2 separate regions of the Homo sapiens genome follow, and region 2 is linked to region 1. Evidence: fine-mapped expression QTL. A gene starts in region 1. The other region holds a variant in brackets. All regions are shown on one strand. Distances are from middle to middle.

Region 1 (8,257 bases):
ATAGCGGAAGTGTTTCCATTTGATTTAGTTCTAGGGAGTCAGCATGAATTGGCCTCCAGACCCTGTTCTCCTGCCTCACTATGTTCAAGAAAATAATTCAATTCAAACCAAAAATGAACATGCACCAAAATTTTATTTCAAGACCGAGGGTAAAAATGAAGACATCTCGTGTAAGTAGAAACAAATCAACAACAAACCTCAACAAACCTTTAGTAAACGATGCTCTATACTAGTGTAGTTAAACCTCTGGGACAGACAGGCCCAAAATGAAATGGCTCAGACAGAAAAGAGGTTTATTTCCTTCCTTCCTTCTCCTTCACCTTCTCTTCTTTCCTTTCTTTCTTGTCTCGCTGTCACCCAGGCTGGAGTGCAGTGGTGTCATCCCGGCTCATCATAGCTTGCGCCTCCCGGGTTCAAGCGATTCTCCTGCCTCAGCCTCCTGAGTAGCTGGAACTACGGGTGCTTACCACCATGCCCGGCTAATATTTGTAGTTTTTTAGTAGAGTCGGGAGTTTTGCCATGTTGGCCAGGCTGTTCTCGAACTCCTGACCTCAAGTGATCCACCGGTCTCGGCCTCGCAAAGTGCTGGAATTACAGGAGTGGACCACCGTGTCCGCCAAGAGGTTTCCTTTCTAACGACCCAGGAGGCCGGGCAGCTCCCGTCCTCCATCAAGTAATGTAGCCACAAAAGCACAAGCAACAAAGGGAGAACATATGTAAATTGGATTTCACCAAAATTTAAAACTTTTATGTCTGAAAGGACACTACCAAGATAGTGAGAGGACTGAACAGACATTCCTCCAATGAAGATAATCAGTGTCAGATAAGCTCAGCATCACGAATCATTAGGGAAATGCAAACTGACCCCTCAGTGATACGACGTCACACCTACTGTGCTGGCTGCAATAAAAAGCCCAACAGTCACAGCGGGTTGTGGGGGACGTGAGCGGGGAACGCTGGTACACTGCCAGCGGGAATGGAAAATGGTGCAGTCACTTTGGAAAACAGTCTGTTGTTTCCTCAAAAGGTCAAACAGCAACTCCACTCTTAGGTGTACACCTCAGAGAAATGAAGACAAATGTCCACAAAAACTTAGACATGAACGTTCATAGCAACATTATTCATAATAGCCAAAAAGAGGGAAAAAGCCAATTGTCCATCAACTCATGAATGGATAAACAAAATGTCATATATCCAAACAATGGATACATTAGAATGTATTAGACTATACAATGGACTCTATTCAGGAGTAAAAAAGAAAGAAGCGCTGATACACATTACAAAATGGACAAGCCTTGGAAATGTTATGCTCAGTAAAAAAAGCCAGACACAAAGGCCGTGCATTGAATAGGTTCCATTTCTATGAAATGTACAGAACAGGCAAATCCACAGAGACAGAAACTAGATTAGCGGTCACCAGGGGCTGGAGGGAGGGGTAATGGGGGGGACTGCTGAGGGGCATCCCCATTTGCTTTTTAGGGTGATGAAAATGTCCTAAACTTGGGGCCAGGCGCAGTGGTTCACGCCTGTAATCCCAGCACTTTGGGAGGCCAAGGCAGGTGGATCACCTGAGGTCAGGTGTTCGAGACCAGCCTGGTCCAACATGGTGAAACTCCGTCTCTACTAAAAATACAAAAATTAGCCGGGCGTAGTGGCACATGCCTATAATCCCAGCTACTCAGGAGGCTGAGGCAGGAGAATTGCTTGAACTTGGAAGGCAGAGGTTGCAGTGAGCCAAGGTAGTGTCACTGCACTCCAGCCTGGGCAACAGAGCAAGACTCCATCTCAAAAAAACAAAACAAAACAAAAAAGTTCTAAACTGGATGATGGTGACAGTGGCACAACTCTGTAACTAAACTGAACACCATTGAATTGAACACTTTAAACGGGAGAAGTCTTACAGCATGATGTCTATATCAATAAAGCTATTTTAAAAAATGAACAAGCCTGATTCAGTCAAAGCCACATGGGTAGTTGCCACCTTGATCACCATAGGTGGCATCACCCAAGGCCCTCTGGAGCTAGGAGAAGCACATACCTTGTACCAGTCAGATGGAAAAGAGGTTGTGTCCGTGTGTTCCAGCTGGTGGCTCTGGCATGGCAGGATTGTCCAGGACTGGCCGTGGTCACGTGCACTCTCCATTTCAGAGCAAGGGGGACGAGCGACTAACCCAGCCCCAGGTCAGCGCGTCAGCGGCCCGTGCTATTGGATTCAGGCTGTGGCACCACATCCAGGGGACAAAGAGCGCGTCGGTTGTCCCCACCCTGCAGCTCTTGGGTCCATGTCTTCTCTCTCCGCGCCATAAAGCCAGAGTTCCCATTTCAGTCACTACAATCACCCCTCCTTGCACCAGGCCTTCCAGGTGTGGGGCATGGGCATGTTTACCTCTGGCCTGTGTGGACCGCTGTGGGGAGGCTTGGCCAGCAAGTTGCTGAGCCAAGTATCTTTTATGGGATCCTGCCGCTCCACAGGAGGATCCGGGAGGCTGAACTAGAGTTAAGTTAGAATCTTTCGGTTCCCCTTCGGGCTGGGCTCCCCGCAGGAACCAGGAACGGGCTGGCCAGGAGGACATGATGGACCGGGAGAAGGTGACAGAGGCAAAGCCAGACCCTTCCTGTTCCATCTTGCAGAGGCTGTCCCAACGCGAGGTGAGGCCAGGTGCCTGGGGGACATCGATGCCTGACCAGAGCCCAGCCTGGACAGCCTTCCAGCAAAGGCTGGGCACTGGCCGACCGTAACGGCCCAGGAGAATGAGGACACGGGAGTCTCGGGGCTGGAGGAGCTGGCTGACCAGATGGTGCCTGACACGGTGCTGAAAACAGGGCAGCAGTCCCCAGAGGCTGAGGGGCCAAAGTAGCCTGTCCACCCAGAGTGGCGAGGCCCACGCCTGTGCAGGAGGCCTGAGGCATGGGGTGGCCTCCCTCACAGCTGTGCCCACCCAGCCTGTGCGCAGGGCGATGTGCTCCTATGTCTGGGCAGTGAGCTGGGCCCTGCGGCGAGAGCAGCAGCAGCTCGATTTCACACGGAGCCACTAGGGAGTGGGCCGTTCCCTTGGCCATACCCGTGGGGGACCCAGTTCATCTGTGGAATTCAGAACCCCAGAGTATTTAATCTGCCATCTCAGGACCTCCGCTGGGGAGCTGGGGCAGGTGGGTGGGTGGTCCCGCTGGGCTTCCGTGGTGCATGCCAGGGACCTCAGAATGGAGCGCCCCACTGAGCCAGCGGCTCTGCTTCAGGCCCAAGAGCAGGGAGTAAGAGAGAAGCCTGCTCAGGCAGAACAGGTGACACTCGTGGCGGGGGCTGCACCCCAAACACTTGCCATCCGACTAAGGGTGTGGGGCAGCCCTTCTTTCCTTAGTCCTGGCATGTCGGGTGGGTCAGCTTGGTGGACAGCTGGCCCTGCTGACCCGGGATCCGCCCTGGGTTCCCCATGGCCTGGAGGCAGGAGGAGATGGCCACTGCATCCAGCGTCGCCTCCTGGTGCTGCGGGCCCCTGACGGACAGAGGACGCTCGACCCCTGCCCGCCACCGCCCAGGGAGTCAGCCCGACTCCCAGGCACCCGCCCCTCTCCCTGCCTGGAGCTCAGCTCGCGGGGTTGGCTAGGGAGTGATGGGGAGTGGAATCCAGCGACACCAGGTCACCCTTCCGGGAGCCTTTTCTCCAGCTGGGACGAGAGGGAATCAAAGGAAAGTAAGACACGGCTCAGGAGGCCCACGCCGAGAGCGAAGAGTGAAGCTCACGCTGGCAAACTGGAGCGCGCGGCCCCTCGGCAGAGGACCGGGGCTCAGGAGGCGGGGACGCGCCTGAAAACAGGGCGGGAGCCTTTCCAACCCCCGCGGGCTGCGATGCAGCAGAAAACTCGGCCGCCTGCACCGGGGATTCTCCAGAAACACAGGCGTGCCTGGGTGTGCGCTCAACTTCCCGGGCGAGGGACGTTTCTGCACTTGCCCTCGGCTTCTGAACTTTGTACTTTGCGAGTGTACTTTGTACTTTGGTCCTGTGTCCCTGCAGCCCTGTGACTACACGCGCACACGCAGGCGCGCGCACACGCGAACTGACGGCTCGCTGGCGATGCTGGAGGCTTTCACAGCCCCCCTCCGGACGCGTTAAGCTCTCCCAGGTCCCACCCCTGACACCGTGGCACCCCCAGACCCACTGCGCCCTCGCACTCGACGCGGGTCCCTGGGGGAAGCGCTCGCTGCGCCCTCGTCTCCCTTGGAGGAGACACTGGCCCGCCCGGCCGGCCGGCTTCTCCCTCCATGGGGACGCTCGCGCGCACCGCCCGGCAGCGCGGGACGCTCCCTGACGCCTGTCCTCGCGGGCCCTCCCACGCGGGGCGCTTCCCTCTGAGACCCGAGCCCAGTCCGGAGGCTCGCGGAGGCCGAGGCGCACTGTGGGGCTCGGCCCGGCCCCTTCCCCGCCCCTCCCCGCCCCTCCCCGCCCCTCCCCGCGCCTCCCCGCGCCTCCCCGCGCCTCCCCGCGCCTCCCCGCCCCTCCCCGCGCCTCCCCGCCCCTCCCCGCGCCTCCCCGCCCCTCCCCGCCCCTCCCCGCCCCTCCCCGCGCCTCCCCGCGCCTCCCCGCCCCTCCCCGCCCCTCCCAGCGCCTCCCCGCCCCCTCGCTCCGCCTCCGGCCTCCTCCGAGAGCTCCAGACCTCCCGGCTACTCAGAAGCCCTCGGACTGCCCGGACCGCGCGATGGAGTCGACCGGCAGCGTCGGGGAGGCCCCGGGCGGACCCCGGGTGCTGGTGGTGGGCGGCGGCATCGCGGGGCTGGGCGCGGCGCAGAGGCTCTGCGGCCACTCCGCCTTCCCGCACCTGCGGGTCCTGGAGGCCACGGCCCGCGCCGGGGGCCGCATCCGCTCGGAGCGCTGCTTCGGTAACCGCCCCTCCCGGAGCCCCTCCCGGAACCCAACCGGCTGCGCCCGAACTCGCCGGCCCCAACCTGCCCTGCGCGCAGCCGACCTGCCCGGCCGCCTCACCGGGCTCCCCGAGGGAATCCCCGCTCGCTTAATCCGCCAGAGTTCACCGCCCCGAAACTCAGGGCTCAGAGTTAGTCAGGAGGGCGCCGGCCAGGGAAGGCGACCTACGGCTCCACAAGGCCGCCCTGATTCTGCCCCACGGGGGCCCCCCCAGCCCCGGGGTACGCCCACCCTGCGCCCCTCCCTCTGGTCCACACCGCCCGACAAGTGCCCTCCTGCCCAGGTGCTCCCCTTAAACTGGGTCTGACAGGGCCCTGCCCTGGGGGACCACAGGGCCCTTGGGGACAGTGTGGTACATCCTCCTTGGGAAGGCCAGCGTGGGCGTGGCCCAGGAGAAGGGCTCGGGGTGACCCTTCTAGGAAAGGGACCTCCAGGTGGCATCTGCTGTCCCCTCGCAGGTGGCGTGGTGGAGGTGGGCGCGCACTGGATCCATGGGCCCTCCCGGGGTAACCCCGTCTTCCAGCTGGCTGCTGAGTACGGGCTGCTGGGGGAGAAGGAGCTGTCCCAGGAGAACCAGCTGGTGGAGACCGGGGGTCACGTGGGCCTGCCCTCCGTGAGCTACGCCAGCTCCGGGGCCAGCGTGAGCCTCCAGCTGGTGGCGGAGATGGCGACTCTGTTCTACGGCCTGATAGACCAGACCCGGGAGTTCCTGCACGCTGCAGAGACCCCGGTGCCCAGCGTCGGGGAGTACCTCAAGAAGGAGATTGGCCAGCACGTGGCCGGCTGGACAGAGGATGAGGAGACCAGGAAGCTGAAGCTGGCCGTCCTGAACTCCTTCTTCAACCTGGAATGCTGTGTGAGCGGCACCCACAGCATGGACCTGGTGGCCCTGGCACCCTTTGGGGAGTATACCGTGCTGCCGGGGCTGGACTGCACCTTTTCTAAGTGCGTGCCTGAGCCCCTGCCCCGCCAGTCCTCCCACCAGGCTCCCCAGGGCACCGGGGCTGGCTGAGCTCCGCTCTTGCTTGGGTATGGGAGGGACAGGAGACCATTTGTCCTCCCCATTCCGACAGACTGGTTGCTCCTTTCCCTAGTTTTGCTCATTTAAGCCAAAAAAGTTATTTCTGAGAGAGAGTGTTTAAAAGAAGGAAAGGTAAGGCTGAGTGCGGTGGCTCACGCCTGTAATCCCAGCACTTTGGGAGGCTGAGGCAGGTGGATCATGAGGTCAGGAGTTCAAGAACAGCCTGGCCAACATGGTGAAATCCCATCTCTACTAAAAATACAAAAATTAGCCGGGCGTGATGGTGCATGCCTGTAATCCCAGCTACTCGGGAGGCTGAGGCAGGAGAATTGCTTGAACCTGGGAGGCGGAGGTTGCAGTGAGCCAAGACTGCGCCATTGCACTCCAACCTGGGCGACAGAGTGAGACTCCATCTCAAAAGAGAAAAAAAGAAGAAGAGTAAAGACTTCTCTTGCTCCTGTATTTATGAGGGGCTTCAACTGCAGAGGGGGCCAGACAGGCCCTCTCCCTGTGGCAGGGTGGCTGCCAGGTACCAGGTGCAGATGAGACCCTCCTCGGGCTGTCCCGTCACCCCTGGTGTTGGCCCCAAGGCTCCTGGCCAGGCAATGGGCATTTGTGAGTCAGGAACTCTGTGGTGGTAAGGAGGAAGCCCTGGTTCCGGCAGATTGCCTTGAGTGCTCTGTGCCCACTGAACCCTCCCTTACAGCCTGGAGGGCAGGTATGAGCATCCTTGAGGTGGAAAACCACAGAGTGGAGCTGACCTCCTTGCTGGCCCTGAGCGATGGAGAGCTCCCCGCAGCTACCTTTGATGCGGGTGGGAACTCAGAGCACGTATTTCCACCAGTCCTGCCCTTCCAGGGACTGGGCCTCTACGAAACCAGCACTTCCGTCTTTCTAGGGGCTATCAAGGACTCACAAACTGCATGATGGCCGCCCTGCCGGAGGACACTGTAGTTTTTGAGAAGCCTGTGAAGACCATCCACTGGAACGGGTCCTTCCAGGAGGCAGCCTTTCCCGGGGAGACCTTTCCAGTGTCGGTAGAGTGTGAGGATGGAGACCGGTTCCCGGCGCACCATGTCATCGTCACCGTGCCCTTAGGTAGGTCAGGTTTTCAGCCCAAACCCCCATCCCAAGTGCCCCCGCCTCTGCCCTTACCCTGCCTCAGTTGGCTCTGGGGCGTTTGCTTGTGTACGAAGCTCACATTTTCGTTCTAGTAAGTTCCAGATAGGTGGAAGGAATGATTCTGTTATGTTTTGTAGCAATTACATGCTTTGGAATTAAGGGTTTCACCGTAAGAAAAAACGCGAGTAAGTATGCGTCCTGCTCGCTTGGAGGTAACCGTTTAGGGTTGCGACGGCCTTGGAGATTAACCACACCGCACTTTGCTGCAGACAGGAAAAGGCATGAAAGGCCTGGTCTGAAGGTCAGGCCTGGGGTGACCTGTTGAAGGAGCCGTGTGTATAATTCTGTTTAATTCTAGATCTGGTGCTTTAGATCTGTCCTTGAGTAGAGGTGGTTTGAAGCTGTTTTATAAAAGGTGGAGATGGTTGAAAACAGAGTTACTAGGATAATTGCTGTCAACTGGACATTTGCTTCCCACGGGTTTCACGCTGCCGTGGGTCTCTGCCTGAGTTATCTCATTGACTCAGGCAGCCTTGGGAGGTGTCTGTCATTGTCCCACATATGACAGATTTGAACATCTAGGCAAGTAGAGAGAAGTCACTTAATTGCCCAAGTTCACAAAGCTAGCGATTGCCAGCACTCACTTGGAAATCTAGGTGTGATTGACAGGTGTGTGATGAAAAGCAGGAGCCTCCGCAGCCCTAACTCCTGTCTCCAAGGGGTGGCTTTGCCCTCCCCGGGGCAGGGATGAGCACTGAGACCCCATTGCTGTTTCCCAGAGATGCAGTCGTCGTCCACACATGAACATCTGCTGCTGGCTGGGCACGGTGGCTCACGCTTGTAATCCCAGCCCTTTGGGAAGCTGAGGCAGGCGGATCACCTGAGGTCAGGAGTTCGAGACCAGCCTGGTCAACATGATGAAACCCTGTCTCTACTAAAAATCCAAAAATTAGCTGGGCATGGTGGCAGGCACCTGTAATTCCAGCTACTTGGGAGGCTGAGGCAGGAGAATCGCTTGAACGGGGGAGGCAGAGGTCACAGTGAGCCGAGATGGTGTCATTGCACTCCAGCCTGGGTGACAGAGTGAGACTCTGTCTCAGAAAAAAAAAAAAACCAAAAATCTGCTGCTCAGTTTGCCTGTTTTTGTTTTTTGTTTTTTTCTTAATAGAACTTGTCAGTGTTTCCAAATCAGCAC
Region 2 (8,391 bases), 91 kb before region 1:
GGATGTGCCAGGTCGGTTCCATCACTTCAAACATCATGTAGTATTGAATATTCTGGACGAAGTTGAGCATTCGCTGCCGCAGAGTGAAAGCCCCAGCAAACCTGAGTGACACGGAGGACGGAGGACAGCCATGGAGGACGCGGCCCCGACAGCGCCCACCAAGTGACACGGAGGACGGAGGACAGCCATGGAGGACGTTCTCTGGACGTGGCTATTTCCTCTGCAGAGCAAGCGCCCCTCCCAGCACACCAGACACTCACGGCCGCTGCTCCTGCGTCTGCCCAGCACAAGCTGTCACCGTCTACCAACCTGTGCCCTGCAGGGACACCCCCAGCCAGCTGGACGGTGGAGACTGGGACGCGGGCTCCTTGGTGGACGGACCCCTCGGAGCCCACGCCAGGAAAGTGCCACACAACAGATGCATATTTGTGCTTCATCATCAAGATGAGTTCTTTTTCTTCTAATTTCTTTTTTTCTTCGAGAGACAGGGTCTTGCTGTCGCTCAGACTGCAGTGCAGTGGCACGATCTTGGCTCACTGCAGCCTTGACCTCCTGGACTCAAGCAACCCTCCCACCTCAGCCTCCTGAGTTGCTGGAACTACAGGCATTCCCGGCTAATTAAAATAATTTTCTTTTTTTTTAAGAGATGAGCTCTTGTTACATTGTCCAGGCGGGTCTCGAACTTGTGGGCTCAAACAATCCTCCCTCCTCAGCTTCCCAAAGTGCTGAGATTACAGGCATGAGCCACTGCACCCGACTGGACAAATTCTTATGAAGCTCTGCCATCGACCCCTTTTTTCAACACCCTAGAGGCACAGACCGGCTGCAAAGCACCTCTGGTCCCAGCAAGATGTGGCTGTCCGCTCTCGGGAGGAGCTAGTGTCCTGCACACCGACCTGGGCAGTCTCCATGCCCGTGCAGTCACCACAAGGCTCCAGAGAGGGCTGAGGGACAGAGCCAGCATCCCCTGTGGGGTGGACGGCAGCGCCGTGCAGCCCCAAGACAGGAAAATGAAGCAATGAAGCATTATGGATCTAAAGCCACCAACGTGCGCTTCCAGATGACACTTCCAGAAGCCTAGAAAGCTGTCTACCAGGAGGGCACAAGGGGGGCGCTGCACCACTGGGCAGAGTGCAGCGAGCGCTGCTTCAGGAGGGCATGCGGGGGCAGAGGAAGAACGCACCACTGGGCGGAGTGCAGCGAGTGCTGCTTGGCGGTTTTGTTGCTGATCCAGACGCTGCAGAGCTGCCGCTCCACGTGCTTGCAGTAGAACATGTGCCTGAAGAGCATCTGGTAGCGAGTGAGGGCTTTCCTGCAAGAGACGTGGCGGCACCTCAGGTGGGCCTCCGTGACCGGCGGCGTCGTGGACACGGCGTCTGTACTCCACAGTCCGCACCGTGGCCCCCGGACAGCCCGTGAATCTCTCGGACACTGAAGGCCGGGGAGAGCCGCCTTGGGTCCTCTGTGGGACGAGGTGGCCACCGCGTGGCACAGTTCTCGCTTCTGCCAAACCTGAGTGAAGATCTGGCAGGTGCCCGAGCAGCCGACCCGCACCTGTTGATGATGAGCGAAAGGGGCCACTTGACGATGTAGTCGAAAGAGAAGGCCTCCAGGCCGCTCAGCGCCAGCTCCGTGGGGTCGGCGTGCGCCATCGCCTTCTCCTGCTTGGTCTCGATGGCCAGGACGCGCAAGAGCTGAGTGATGAGGTCATGGGGCATCAGGTCGATCTTGGAGGGAAGGAAATGAAACAAAGCATCCAGTTTTAAGGAAAAGACCCGAAGTCGCATCCCGATCGCCATCCTCGCTCACAGACCCAGCGCTGACGTAAGGTTCCCTACATTCCGATTCTAAATATCAGAGGCTTTTCAAAAACCCAAACATCTACTGATAAATCAAATTCAAAACTGAACCACTTCCCATCAGAACAAAACAACAAAAATTCAGATGAATTACTTTGTAAATACCCACTGCTGCTGTGGGTGGTATAAGGGAAAAACCGCTAAGGACGGTGAAAGAAACGTGATTCCTTAGGACGAAAACCTTTGTACCATGATAAGCACCAGGCCCAGGTTGAAAAATGAAGCATATTTGACGAGGGACATAATAGTTATTATAAGCAAGTAATACTGTCCTCACGTTAATCACTCGAGTATTTGCTAAGTTCCAACCACCCGCAACAGAGTTCCTACAAAACCATCGCACAACGACAGGACAGGAAATGAAGGGCAGGGGATAAAGCAAGAAGAAACAAGCAGCGGACAGACGAAATCGTGACCATCACAAACGCAGAAATGAGCCCCTGACATCACTTGTCCATCAAATAGCCAAGGTGGGAGCTTTCGCAGGTGTGCAGACAGCAGCGTCCTGAGACTGGACTCCATCAACTCCAGCAAGGTCAGCCTAGTCATACAAGGGCCATGTATTGTGACCCAACAATTTCACTACCAGGAATTTTTCCTACGAAAATATTCCTGCTCCTAACAAGAGACCCCAAAATATCTGAATCAAGAATAGACAGAATGACAAGGAGAAAAGCAGTTCTTCAGTGACAGGGAGACTCGGTGCCCTACTTCTAACCACGGAGAGAACCGCCGGACAGACGATCAGTGAGGAAAGACACGGCCTCAACCCACCTGCAGAACACCACCCCAACAGCACCGAGGGCGCGTCCTCCTCCCGCGCGCACGGAACCGAGGGCACATCCTCCTCCCGCGCGCACGGAACACTCTCCAGGATGGATGTGGGGCCACTACACAAATCAATACATTTCACAAAACTGAAATCACAAAAAGTCTGTTCTCTAACAAGGAGATAAAGTTAGAAACAAGCAACAGAAGGAAAACCAGAAACTTCACAAACATGTGGAAGTTAAACATAAACCACCCACGGCTCCAACAAGAAATCAGAGGGAATCAGAAACACCTCCAGACAAACAGAAATTATGACGCTAGGGGATCAGCGAAGGCTGCACTCGGAGGGATGTTTACAGCTGTAAACTAACTTTTCAAATTAAGAAACTAGAAAAAAGAAGACCACACTGAACCCCTAAGCAGCAGACAGGAGTAACAAAGATGACAGAAGAGAGAAAACAGAAAAATACAGTCAACAAACCCAAGAGTTGGTTCTTTGAAAAGATAATGAAATCGACAAATTTCTAGCTACATCAGCTAAGACGAAAGAAGATTCAAATTACTAAAATCAGAAAAAGAAGGGATATAACTACTAATCTTACAGAAATAAAAAGCAGATACTAGAAACCCATGAACTGTGCACCAGACAAGATGCGAGACAGACAGCCGACCAAGAGGAAAGGGACTGAGCAGACCTGTGGCCAGCAAGGGGCCAAGTCCCCCTCAAAAGTCTCCAACAAAGACAAACCCAGGGCCCAAGAGCTCCCAGGCAAACCCTGCCAAACAGCCAAAGAATCAACACCCTCCTGGGGAGGCGCAGGTGAAGGATCGCTTGAGCCCAGGGGTTCAACCAGCCTGGGCAACACAGACCCCCGTCTCTATTAAAAATAGTAAAAAACAGATAAAACATATATATATTTTAAAAAACGGCTGGGCACGGTGGCTCATGCCTGTAATCCCAGCACTTTGGGAGGCCAAGGTGGGTGGATCACCTGAGGTCAAGAGTTCAAGACCAGCCTGGGAAACATGGTGAAACCCCATCTCTACTAAAAATACAAAAATTAGCTGGGCGTGGTGGCGCGCACCTGTAATCCCAGCTACTCGGGAGGCTGAGGTAGAGCATCACTTGAACCCAGGAGGTGGAGGCTGCAGTGAGCTGAGATCATGCCACTGCACTCCAGCCTGGGTGACAAGAGCAAAACTCCGTCTCAAAAAAAAAAACAAAAAACAACGACAACAAAAAGGCAAAAACAAAAAGAATTAACACCACTCCTGAAACCCTTTCAAAAGACCTGAAACCCTTTCAAAAGACAGATGGAGGGACACGTGAAAACAATTCCACAAGGCCAGCATGACCTGAAAGCCAGGCCCGGACGAGGGCACTGCAGGAAAACCCGAGACCCGCGCCCCTCCAGAGCACAGGCACAAAGACCCCCGATCCCGGCAAGCCGGCCCCGGTAGCCAAGTGAAGGAAACAGACCCTGC[G/A]GTCGCCTCACCGGGACGGGGAGTGGGGGACAGGGCTGGCCTCTGCTGTGCTCTCCTCCCAGCCCCTCCGAGGCCTCTGCCACAGGGGACAGCCCCCGGCACCCCCACCCACCTTGAGGTCGTCCTTGAAGGGGTCAGTGTTGGCCGTGCTCATGCGCAGCGCCAGCTCCAGGAGCGCTTCCAGGCGAGGGGGCGTGATGTCCTCCACCGGCTTCCGGAGCTCCTCCTCCGCGAGGTCCATGAAGTGCACGAAGAAGTCGCCCTGGTCCATGAGGAAGTAGCGCTTGATGGACCTGCGCCAGGGAGCAGGCGTGAGCAGGTGCCCACCCGCAGGTGCCCGCCACAGCCAGGGAGCAGGCGTGAGCACGTGCCCACCCGCAGGTGCCCGCCACAGCCAGGGAGCAGGCGTGAGCACGTGCCCACCCGCAGGTGCCCGCCACGGCCAGGGAGCAGGCGTGAGCACGTGCCCACCCACAGATGCTCGCCATAGCCATCACCCTAAAACACACTACAACAGGCTAAGCGCTTGGCTCTCAGGCAGGGGCTGTGCAACCACCACGCAAGCTGTGGCAGGAGGAGCTGAGAAGGGGCTGGTGGGCCCTGGGCAAGGAGGGGAGCTGGGGCCCCTGGACAAGGTGACCGGGGGCCTACACCACCCACTGTGAGTGCCAGGTCCTTGAGCTAGAGACCATCCAGCAGTGCCCACTTTCAAAAAGACAAGGCGGAGCTGCCAGAAGAAACCCAGCGATCTCAGCCCCACGTCCCACAGGTTCCGGTTTCAGAGGGAGGTGAGTGCCCGCACAGGGACAGGGCACGGAATCACCTGAGGTGAGCCACCAGCTCCTTCTCCTCCATCAGGAAGTCCAGCAGCACCTTGCTGGCGTAGTTAAACGCCTTCTCGATCTGCTCCACATACGCCCGCTCTTTTAACGTGTAGATGATCTCTTTAGCCACCGGGCAGGTGACGTCATGGCCACACTCTCTGACCACATTTAGATATTTTCCTGAAAACACAGAAATTCAAAATTTTATTCTCCACATGGTCGATCTCAGGCCCCAGCTGTCTTTGTCTACACAGGAGGCAGTGGAATGGACATTGAATGGGCTCTCCACACGGTCAGTCTGAGGCCCCAGCTGTCTTTGTCTACACAGAAGGCAGTGGAATGGAAACTGGGCTGCATGAGGCGGCTCCACACCCTTGCTCCTTCCCGGTAAATCACTGTCAGCGGCTACAGACTGAGCTGGTGGTGGCAGGGCTTTGCCGTGGCTCTGCACATCTGGAATTTTCTAACCAAGGGCACAGAAATAATTTCGAACAGGCATTATGAGAACCGGATGGCTAATCGCTTCCCAACCCTTTCGTGACGGCCCCGATGTGCCGAGTCCAAGTCCCCGCGCCACTGCCCTGGGTCCAGGTCAGGCCCTAACCTGTGTGGTCAGAGATAGGAAACACTGCCGGCCGCCAGGCGTGTGTCTTTGCTGGTTTTTCCTGACATGCTAGCGGAGTTTTAGAAATCAGAAACAGAAATAGAGAAGGCACCTGTGAGAGAGCCTCGCAGGGTCAGGGACAGAGTCCCGGAGATGGAAACCTGAGGGAACCTGGCAACAGAGACCATCTCAAGGCCTAACTCAGCGCCGCAGCCCAGCCCACGGGCCAGTCCTGACCTCAGCCCCGCATTCACGGACACCAGGGCTCAGGGCAACCACAGGGTGAGGCACAGGCTCCCGGTGGGAGGGCCTGGGCTGCAGGAGACTCTCCAGGCAGAGCTGTGCTGCGCACCCCAAGTCCCCGCCCGCTGCGCCGCACCTGTGCTGAGGATCTTGTCCGCCATTTTCTGCAGGAAGGACGGGATCTGCTGCTGGACGATGGTGTACCGCTGGTCCCAGTACTTGTCGTTGTAATCCTCCTGGATCCTCTCCTTCCGCAGCTCGTGCTCCTCGACCATAAACTCACTAAAACCACAGGGAGCGCTTCGGTCACAGGCAAAGCAAGGGCGCCTGAGGCAGGCGACACTTCTCCAGGCCGGCAGCGCGCAGGGACATTAACAGAGGCCAGCACACTTCCAAGTAACGTTCCACAAGGGCCGAGCCTAATCTACCAGTTACTTCTCAACTGTGGGCTAAAACGAACCTAGGGGCCGGGCACGGTGGCTCACGCCTGTAACCCCAACACTTCTCGGCTAAAACGAACCTAGGGGCCGGGCACAGTGGCTCACGCCTGTAACCCCAGCACTTTGGGAGGCTGAGGTGGGCAGATCACGAAGTCAAGAGATCAAGACCATCCTGGCCAACACAGTGAAACCCCGTCTCTACTAAAATACAAAAAATCAGCTGGGCGTGGTGGTGTGCACCTGTAGTCCCAGCTACTTGGGAGGTTAAGGCAGGGGAATCGCTTGAACCTGGGAGGTGGGGGTTGCAGCGAGCCGAGATCATGCCACTGCACTCCAGCCTGGCAATGGAGCGAGACTCTGCCTCAAAAAAAAAAAGAAAAAAAAAAAAAAGAAAACCAACAAACCTACAAACCTCGCTCTGGAACGGAGTATTTAACCTGGGCTCAGGGAGAATGTACGGTCCGCAGAGATAGGTGGGAAACTGATTTGTCTTTATCTGCACCCACCTCTTTTTGGAATTTAGCATTTCCTTCCATGATGAGCCCAGGCAACAAAATGATGCTCGTGTGGGGTGCGTGGGGCCCTGACACCCAAAATGATGCTCGTGTGGGGTAGGCGGGGCCAACATTGACAGAAACCAGACATCTCCACGTCATCATCTGAACAACTTCAAACATCATTTACGCACTTCAAGTGTGAAGGTGCTTTCTTTAAAGGTGCCCATTATACCAGATTTTATTTGGTCCATTAGTAAAGAAATAACATTTCCACATCACTAATGTATTTTTTGAAAATATTTCAACAACGGTATCTTGACGTAATAGACATAATACAATTCTTTGGGAACTAACATATTTTTATCCATTTAAATATATCGCACTGAAGAGAAGCCGACAGACCCCACCAGATCAGGAAATCCAAGCACCAAAGAGGTTGAAGGACCTAATTGGAGGCAATTTAATGTCCTGCACACAAAAGAATAAGGCCATAAGCAGCTGGGCCATTCCTGCCCTGGGCCCCATGGGCAGCAGGCGGACATCTGCCCGGGGTGTGCTTTCCTGAGACCACAAGCAAAGGAAGGCCAGAGCCCCCAGAGAGGGCAGCACGCGCCCTCCGTGTCCCCCATGTCCCTCCGTGTCCCCCATGTCCCTCCGTGTCCCTGTGTCCCGGGGAGCCCTACCTGTACGGGAGAGGGCAGCATGCACCGTCCGTGTCCCCCATGTCCCTCCGTGTCCCCGTGTCCCTCCGTGTCCCCGTGTCCCGGGGAGCCCTACCTGTACGGGAGAGGGCAGCATGCACCGTCCGTGTCCCCCATGTCCCTCCGTGTCCCCGTGTCCCTCCGTGTCCCCGTGTCCCGGGGAGCCCTACCTGTACGGGAGAGGGCAGCATGCACCGTCCGTGTCCCCCATGTCCCTCCGTGTCCCCGTGTCCCTCCGTGTCCCCGTGTCCCGGGGAGCCCTACCTGTACGGGAGAGGGCAGCATGCACCGTCCGTGTCCCCCATGTCCCTCCGTGTCCCCGTGTCCCTCCGTGTCCCCGTGTCCCGGGGAGCCCTACCTGTACGGGAGAGGGCAGCATGCACCGTCCGTGTCCCCCATGTCCCTCCGTGTCCCCGTGTCCCTCCGTGTCCCCGTGTCCCGGGGAGCCCTACCTGTACGGGAGAGGGCAGCACGCGCCCTCCGTGTCCCCCATGTCCCTCCGTGTCCCCCATGTCCCTCCGTGTCCCTGTGTCCCGGGGAGCCCTACCTGTACGGGAGAGGGCAGCATGCACCGTCCGTGTCCCCCATGTCCCTCCGTGTCCCCCATGTCCCTCCGTGTCCCTCCGTGTCCCCGTGTCCCGGGGAGCCCTACCTGTACGGGAGAGGGCAGCACGCACCCTCCGTGTCCCCCATGTCCCTCTGTGTCCCTCCGTGTCCCTCCGTGTCCCCCATGTCCCTCCGTGTCCCCCGTGTCCCTCCGTGTCCCTCCGTGTCCCTCCGTGTCCCCCATGTCCCCCATGTCCCCGTGTCCCGGGGAGCCCTACCTGTACGGGAGAGGGCAGCATGCACACTCCGTGTCCCCCGTGTCCCTCCGTGTCCCCCATGTCCCCGTGTCCCGGGGAGCCCTACCTGTACGGGAGAGGGCAGCATGCACACTCCGTGTCCCCCGTGTCCCTCCGTGTCCCCC

Evidence for each region.
Region 2: its variant is fine-mapped to the expression of PAOX in whole blood (TOPMed, PIP above 0.99).

The regions. Positions count from the first base shown.
Region 1 is chr10:133,374,622-133,382,878 of GRCh38, forward strand. It overlaps PAOX (polyamine oxidase), which reads left to right and starts at 4,641. Exons shown (of 7, transcript NM_152911.4): 1 at 4,641-4,876; 2 at 5,378-5,864; 3 at 6,839-7,038. The coding sequence starts at 4,696. It overlaps LOC124902563 (a long non-coding RNA gene), which reads right to left and starts at 4,270. Exons shown (of 2, transcript XR_007062395.1): 1 at 2,039-4,270; 2 at 115-585. RefSeq lists an enhancer at 3,734-4,233 and silencers at 4,207-4,466, 4,567-4,976.
Region 2 is chr10:133,283,902-133,292,292 of GRCh38, forward strand. TUBGCP2 (tubulin gamma complex component 2) reads right to left here. Exons shown (of 18, transcript NM_006659.4): 9 at 5,923-6,068; 10 at 4,939-5,119; 11 at 4,228-4,408; 12 at 1,555-1,727; 13 at 1,184-1,312; 14 at 1-101. It overlaps LOC124902562 (a long non-coding RNA gene), which reads right to left and starts at 8,146. Exons shown (of 2, transcript XR_007062394.1): 1 at 7,501-8,146; 2 at 6,932-7,406. The variant G/A (reference allele first, on the strand shown) is at 4,116.